Homo sapiens: one gene and its partner. The protein of the gene in region 2 purifies or fractionates together with the protein of the main gene of each other region. This does not show direct contact. Each region holds a gene or a part of one and is shown on either strand. Other genes may lie near its edges.

Evidence for each region.
Region 1: the proteins of FAM181A (region 2) and CLYBL purify together in Homo sapiens (affinity purification with mass spectrometry; one large-scale study listed by BioGRID and IntAct). This does not show direct contact.

Annotation. Positions count from the first base shown.
Region 1 is NC_000013.11:99,854,398-99,858,409, reverse strand, and holds part of CLYBL (citramalyl-CoA lyase, mitochondrial isoform 1 precursor), read right to left. Parts: intron 1-4,012. UniProt on the Homo sapiens protein: Mitochondrial citramalyl-CoA lyase indirectly involved in the vitamin B12 metabolism. Converts citramalyl-CoA into acetyl-CoA and pyruvate in the C5-dicarboxylate catabolism pathway.
Region 2 is NC_000014.9:93,925,844-93,929,443, reverse strand, and holds the start of FAM181A (protein FAM181A), read right to left. Parts: upstream 2,101-3,600; 5' UTR 1,990-2,100; exon of another isoform or gene 1,818-1,989; intron 1,246-1,817; coding exon of another isoform or gene 1,159-1,245; coding exon 280-1,158; 3' UTR 1-279.

The DNA of each region.
Region 1 (4,012 bases), on a different chromosome or scaffold from region 2:
GGGAAAAAATAAGGATTTTTCTTTTTCCACAGGCATCATGCTTTTTTTACTCACTATTTTTTTGCAACTGAGTTGAATCTTGACATTCAATTAAGAAGATGCTCACAGGAATCTGACAATGTGTACTACAAGAAAAGCTCCCACTTCTTCAGGTGGAAGGCAAGGAATCCCTTCATGAAGTGCTTGACAAATACTTTTTTTTTCTTTGACTTGACAGGCTTTGCTCCACAGTTCAGAAAAGCTGAAAGGCTGAAAGTCTGCTTCAGTATTTGAATTGTCCCCAGAAAAACTATATGAAACCAAGTATGTTATTTCTTGGCTTTGGCTTGGGGGCAATGAAGGTGGGGTTGGGGAGAGAAAGAAGTGCATGGAAAGGGTGAGGCTGGAGTCAAGAGAAAGAAAGCACTGGGGGTCATTACTTCCTGCCAATTTCAGTTTCAAAAGCCAACTCCTCCAACTTGCCAACAGCCCTCAACAAATTCTCATTGTCAGAATGAACACTTATCAAAAGTAGTTTCATTTGGGAAGGGTTTTTATGATACTAATAAAACTTTAAAGCTTCTCACTGCTGATGAATGTAGTTTACAAAAAAGGTCTCAATAATATATAACCATTTGAAAAGCAATACTGATCTAGGAAAATAGCAAACCAAAGCAGAGACAAAAAAGAATTATTTAAGCCAAATATTGAGTCTAAGTCCCAGCAACAAGACAACCCAGGACAGCAGATTTAAACCAGACAGATGTGGGTCTATGAGCGGGGAGAAGCAAGGAATGCTTCCAAATGTGGTCTGAGTTAAACAATGTGAGGAAACGGTAGCTTAGAGTTGTCGGGTCAGATGGGAAGAGTACCTAAGACAGTTTAGGACTGCTCTGTGAAGTCCTGATTTACAGAGCTTCATCTGCCAATAATTAGGCCAACTTAGACAAAAGCAAGAGAGAGCTCAGACTAGCTAAAGTCAGAGATGATGCAGCCAGCAATGGCTTGGTTCCACATCATACCTTTGTTTTATTCCATAGATATAAAACTCGCCCACTTGCTCTACCATGCATTCTTTATTACAGCCATTAAATACGAAAATCTTCTCTTTTTTTTGAGACACAGTCTCACTCTGTCACCCAGGCTGGAGTGCAGTGGCGCAATCTCGGCTCACTGCAATCTCTGCCTCCTGAGTTCAAGTGATTCTCCTGCCTCAGCCCCCTGAGTAGCTAGGACTACAGGCACCCGCCACCACACCCAGCTAATTTTTGTATTTTTAGTAGAGACAGGGTTTCACTGTGTTGGCCAGGCTGACCTTGAACTCCTGATCTCAGGTGATCCACCCGCCTCAGCCTCCCAAAGTGCTGGGATTACAGGTGTGAGCCACGGTGCCCGGCCCTAAATACGAAAATCTTAAAGGTGAAGAGCAGAAGTTGGCTCAGTATCTTGGCTCTAAAGCTGTCTAGAGCTGCTGGGAGAAATACTTGAGCTCTGGCTGGGCATGGTGCCTCACACCTGTAATCCCAGCCCTTTGAGAGGCTGAGGGGGTGGATCACCTGAGGTCAAGAGTTCAAGACCAGCCTGGCCAACATGGTGAAACCCCATCTCTACTAAAAATGCAAAAATTAGCCGGGTGTAGTGGCACATACCTGTAGTTCCAGCTACTCGGGAGGCTGAGGCAGGAGAATCGTTTGAACCCAGGAGGTAGAGGTTGCAGTGAGCCGAGACTGTACCTCTGCACTCCAGCATAGGACACAGAGCGAGACTCCATCTCAAAAGCGAAAACAAACAAACCAAAAAACTGAAATACTTTCAGCTTTTTGGAAGGCACATTTAGATCCATGGCTGTGGAGAACCTAAAGCATGTTCTTCTCTGTGTAGCCTATGCAGCTACAAAAAAACGAGATAAGATTGCTGGAGTTTGTCAATGTGACTTCCAGGTTCCCTTTTAATAGCTAAGTCAGCCTTGCAAAGAGTCTACTGGGACAGTATGAATGGAAAATTGAAGGGAACTCACTCAGTTTTTTAGGCCATACTGCATTTTAAAGCTTAAATTATTTGAGTCATCATCTCCATCCTCTAATCTGCATGTGTGCTCAAGAACGCAGGATCCCTGGCAACATCAACTTCCTAAATTGTTAATGTTGGCTGGTGTCAAACAAAATCTGATCTTGAAGCTGTTTGGTTTCACTTGGATTTGAAGGGACTTGTTTGTTCAAAGCTCATGTTCTAAACCTGTTTGATTTTTATCTAAAGTCGGATTGCCATGGTTTCAGCACATTCCAGTTTACTTAGCAAAATTCGGCCCTTGTGAAATTGGCTGCAAATGAAGTACCTACTTCCAATTTTAGGCATAATCTGATTAGTACTTTTCATATTATAATAATGAGCAGTGAATACTCAGCATTTAAAAAATTTTGGCTCAGAATGGAAACCAAGCTCTTTACACTTCATCATTCTGTACATTTCCAAAAACAGAGGATGGCTTTTGAGGTAAGTTGCCATACGACACCCTTATTAACCGGCTGTTGCTTGTTACAATTTACATAAACCAAGTGTGCATCCCTCTGGTATATATCCCAAAACACTCAACAACTTCAGTGAATTTACCCCAACCAGCGAGCATGTTGAATTTTTTTTTTTCTTTTTGGTATTTTCAGGGTGAAGTATTTGACTGTGCTAGCAAACACGCCCATGCCATCTGTTGGGTTGGGAGGAAGGCAGTTTCTAAGAACAATTAAGTTTAGTTCTGGGTGTTCAGTTCGAGAGAGTCACAGTCCACCCAGTTGTGAAAAGAAAGAAATTCTGTTCATTTTATTCTCTTTTTCCCTCTCTCTGCCACACACACTGTACTTCTTGCTAACAGCGCTCTCAGCTCTCTCATCTCCACCACCTCATCCTTCACGCTTCACACTTTCCTTCTTTTTCTTTCTCTCTTTCTTTGGCTCCTGGTTGGCTCTGACCATCCCTCCAATATCCATCTTAGGTGGATTAGCAAGAGGCTGCCTGGCTGACCCCAGCTCTCAGAAGGGCTCTCAGGGTGACCTGCTACGACTATTGGGAGGTAAGTGCTTCCTGGAGGAAGGAGAAAAAGGAAATTAAGGTAAAAGCGGTCACCCCAAAAAGAGCTTTTATGGGGGCTTTTATATCCTAGGAGTAATACAGGTTGTTTAAAATGAGGTTTGAGAGGGACTGCATTCTAAATGTGTTAACACTACAGGACAGCCTTGGTGAGCCATTCTCACTGTGGAATGAACTTGTCCCCCAAGATCTGACAAGCTGGAAATGACTGAATAATGGAATTAAGGCCTTTATCAACAGTTACATTAGAACTTCGAAGAGACTAATTACCATAGCGTGTTCTGGATCATGTTTGATCCAGAGGTGGACTCTGCCCAGGTCATAGAGGAAGTTGGCACAGATTACAATCTTTGCAGGCCCCCATTCTAAAAAATGGTGTTCCCAAAGTTGCCGCATTCAATCGATATTTCGTGCCATGCTGCTCAGTGCAGTGGACCAGTGGCTAATAAACTTGTCCTTATCCATAAGCCACCGTATTAGGTGACTCTGTCTGGGCCAGGAACCAAGGCGTGCTATGATTTCAGAGACTGGATTCCTATCACCTGGGGAAGAGACACGCTCTGGTGACGTAAGAAAGCGGAGAAATCAACCATCACCAAAACCTGCAGACTCTGAAATTAAAGGAGAAAATATGCGTGCAGTTGGTTCAATTGGCACCCATTAAAGCTAATAACTAATCATCCTCGCAAGTTTCTAGCTCAGAATGATCAAATCTGCAAAGAAAACAACATCCGTCCACTTTTACACTCCAGTGGAAGAGGTGGTCCCTCGCGGCAGGGCGGCACAGTCTCGCCATCTGGAGAATAAATCGAGTGTGAAGTACAGTATAGTTTGGGACCAAGCTCCGTGGCGGCAGCTCAGCAGTCAGTTCATTAGTTCCAAACTTCCAGGGATTAGAGCGGCATCAATTCTACTGTCGGATAGGATGAGACAGACAGGATACGAGATTCAA
Region 2 (3,600 bases):
ATCCCAGTACCTATGGTCTGCACAGGGACAGCGGGACAAGCTGCTGGGCCCTGGCCTGCCTGGGGAGGGGCCAACCAGGTCCAGCCTCCCAGCTTCCAAGGCTGCAAGGCTGAAGGGTCACTGCCTGAGGAGCCCTGCCCCAATCCTGCCCTCCACTCCCATGCGCACACAAACGGAAGAGGCCACACTGTGGCCCAGCCACCTCCTCACAGGAGAGCGCCTCGGGGACCTCGACACTCCTGCAGGCCAGAGGTGGGGGCTGAGGCCCTCTCCGCGTGGCTAGAGGTAGCCAAAGACATTGAAGATGGGTGGGGGCACGGCTGGCTTGGTGGGGATGGGTTTCAGCACCACGGGCCTGCACACCTTCTGCCCCAGGCCGTCCACATCCTTGCAGAGGTGCGCCAGCTCCCCGGGAAAGGCTGGGCTCTTCCTCCAAAGGCCCAGGCTGGGGACAGGACTCTGAGGCAGTGCCCCCAGGGGGCCCGGATAGATGGGCTGTCCATGGTACTGGAAGGGGCAGCAACTCCAGGCATTGACGCGGCCCACCAAGGAGACCCCAGGCATCTTGAGCGGCTCCTTTTCAGCCAGGGCCCTTGGAGACATGGACACCAGGGTAGTCTCAGGTCCCAGGGGCTCCAAGCCCTTGCAATTTTTCTTACCCTCATAGGGAGGTCCCTCCCTGGGGCCCAGTCCCCCCTCCAGCCCCACATGGTAGCTGTGGGTGGGCCTTGGCTCTTCCCAGAAGGAAGCGGGCAGCTGTCTTTTCCTCATGGGCACCTGGCCAGGCTGGGCAGCTTCTGGATGCTGCCTCTGTGGGAGCTGCTCCTTAGCAAGACATTCCTCCCTGTAGGGGTTCCTCAGCACCTTCTCCTTGCAGCCCCCACCCCCGCCGGGGCTGGAATCAGGGCCCAAATCCAGGAGCAGCCTCCTGGGCCGGTCCTCAGACCCCCTTTTCAGGTAGGGCTCAGCAGCTCTGCCAGGAAGGCCCCGCGGGAGCCGGGAATACTTCTGGGAGAAGCGCTTGAGCTGCTTCTGCAGGTACTTGCGATGGTCCACGGAGCGGCGGCAGGGTGCGGACTTATCCAGGGCTGCCTTGATGTCGCTGGACGCCAGGTTCACGAAGTTCAGCAGCATCTTCACATCACTGTCGGATGCCATCACCAGGGGGCCACTGCACGAGGCTTTCCATGAAGAGGGTAGGCTCTGCTGGTGGCCGGCAGCTCCAAGGAAGGGCACCGAGCTGACCTGGGGGACAAAACAGGCCATCGGAGTCTCTCCAAGCAACCACACCCAGCCCTCCCAAAAGACCACAGCACCTGTCTACAAACAGTCTCCCCACCCCAGCACCTCTCAGCCCTAAACAGAGTCCTGGGTAGAGGGATGTGGGTGCAAGTGGCTGAGCACTTCCTGCACACCTGGGATGCGGCAGGCACCAGCAGAGCCTCGCCCAGCCTGCTTGGGTCTGGTGCCCCTTCTTGCAGCCAAGGCTCAGAAAGGTCAAGCAAGTCGCCCAAGGTGACCCAGCTACAGGTGGCATTGCTGGGGCTGGCACACACTCCCAGCCTGCCCCATCTCCCACACACCACGCTGCCAACGTGTGCAACTTGCCAGCGAGGTGTTTATTCTCTGAGCTGAGGCAACTGTTCCTCTTTAAAGCAAGGCCAAGCCCCCTTCCTCCCTGGTGGTAGCCTCCCCCTCCCACCACTCCTGCCCCCAGCACGAGGAGCACCAGCCCCCCTCCTCAGTCCCCACGCTCCACCCCCAGCTCTCACGCAGGACCAGGCAGGACCCCTGTCTGGCACTTAATCGAGACCTGCCTTGCGGGCTGATCTCAGGCTGCGGGCAGCAGGGATTCCCCCGAAGAAGCATCTGCAGCAATTTCATGCCTCCTCGGCCGCCACCCACGGCACCTCGCCCCTCCCCCAGGCCCCAGCCTGCCCCCACACCCGCCACCCAGTCGGGCCAGAGCCACCGGGCCTCCACACTGACCGAAGGTGCGGCCCAGGCCCCACCAACGTGGCCCGGCAGGTTCCCCACTGCAGACCTGGGACAGGCCCCGGCGCAGCCGGCCGAGCTCCGTCCGGCTGGAAGCAGTTGTGCAACCCTTGAGTGGGCTGAATGGAGGACAACTCCCCGGAGCTGGGGGGCCCCTCAGGCCAATCAGGAGCGCCTCTCCAGATACAAAGCATCCCAATCAGGCGGCGGCGCCCCGTTCCCACATTCTTTGCCGTCACAAATTGTCACCATGGGGACCATCACAAAAAAGACAGCTCCCAAATGCAATCATTTCCCGGTAAATTTCTACCCTTCAGCCCCACTCTCCTCAGCCTCCACCCCCCTCCTCCCCTTGACCTCAGTTCCCTGGTTTCTCAAGGGGGTGGGGTGTGTGTGTGTGTGTGTGTGTGTGTGTGTTTAAAATGTCCAGGATTGAGAAGGGGCTGGGCCTAGTGGAGACAGGCTTGCAAACCTCCCCCAAAGACTCCAGGCCTACAGCTGCCATGCTCCAGTGCGGACAGACAATCGGACGGGGTAAGCCGGGGCGGGCTGCTTTTCCCGCTGTCCTTGAGTGTTGAGTGGCTCTCTCGCTCTCACTCTCTCTTCTCCTGTCTCTCTGTCTCTCTCTCTGTCTCCCCCTGCCACCCCCACCACCCTCCCTGCCAGGATCCCCCAGGGATCGGGGATGGAGGGCCTTCAAGGTCAGGAGGTGCGCTGATGCCTGTCGGAAAAGGTGGCCGAGGAAGGACTCTCTAACGAGGTGCTGGGATATCCATGGGAAGGGAGCTGGAGCTCTCAGGAATCTTGTCTTTATGTTTGCTTCCTCAATTGAGCTGCACAAAGCCTGAATTGCCCATTCAGCGCAGCCGGACAAAAGGTTGGCGTTGCACGGTCCCCTTGCATTTGTAGTCAAACAGTTAGGGACTTAAATCGAGTCGTCATGATGGAGAAAGAGGTGGACAAAGCCCATAGAATTGCCATCAGCAAACATTTTCCTGTGTCATATTAGCCAGTTTCCATGGCTCCCCCTGGCCTGCGGACAATGGGACAAGTTTGCACACTTGGCTACTGTCACCGTGCCAACGCCGGCGGGGCTGCAAGCAGGGCCACTCTGAGCAAGCAAGGGAGCCCAGAGCCGCTGTTGGCCCTGCCCACCAACTGGCCAGAGGGAAGGTGAGGCTGAAGGCGAGGGCGGCCGCCTGGGAAATGCTAATGGTCGTGCCTCCGTGCCAGCCCAGCTCACGGGCCCCTTTCACGCCTCATCATTTTTCTGCCCAGACTCAGCCTCCTCTTCCCTCCTCCTCTCCTTCCCCTTCCTTTTCTCTTCCCCTTCTACTGCCTTCTCCTCCTGTCTCCCTCACCAGCCAGATGGCTGGTGGCCTGTGCGCCAACCCACACCTCTGTACTACAACCTAAGATTTGGCATCTTAGGTTGCAGGACTCCTCCCTGGAGTCTCCCTACCCAGACTGGGGGCATTGGCAGGGCAGAGCCAGGGCCTCCATCCAGAAGTGATGGCCCTGCTCCTTCCCACTGGCCAATAGACAGCTGCTGTGGCCTGACTCCAAGCCATCTCCCCTACCCCTGGCCTGAGGGTCCTTACAGGC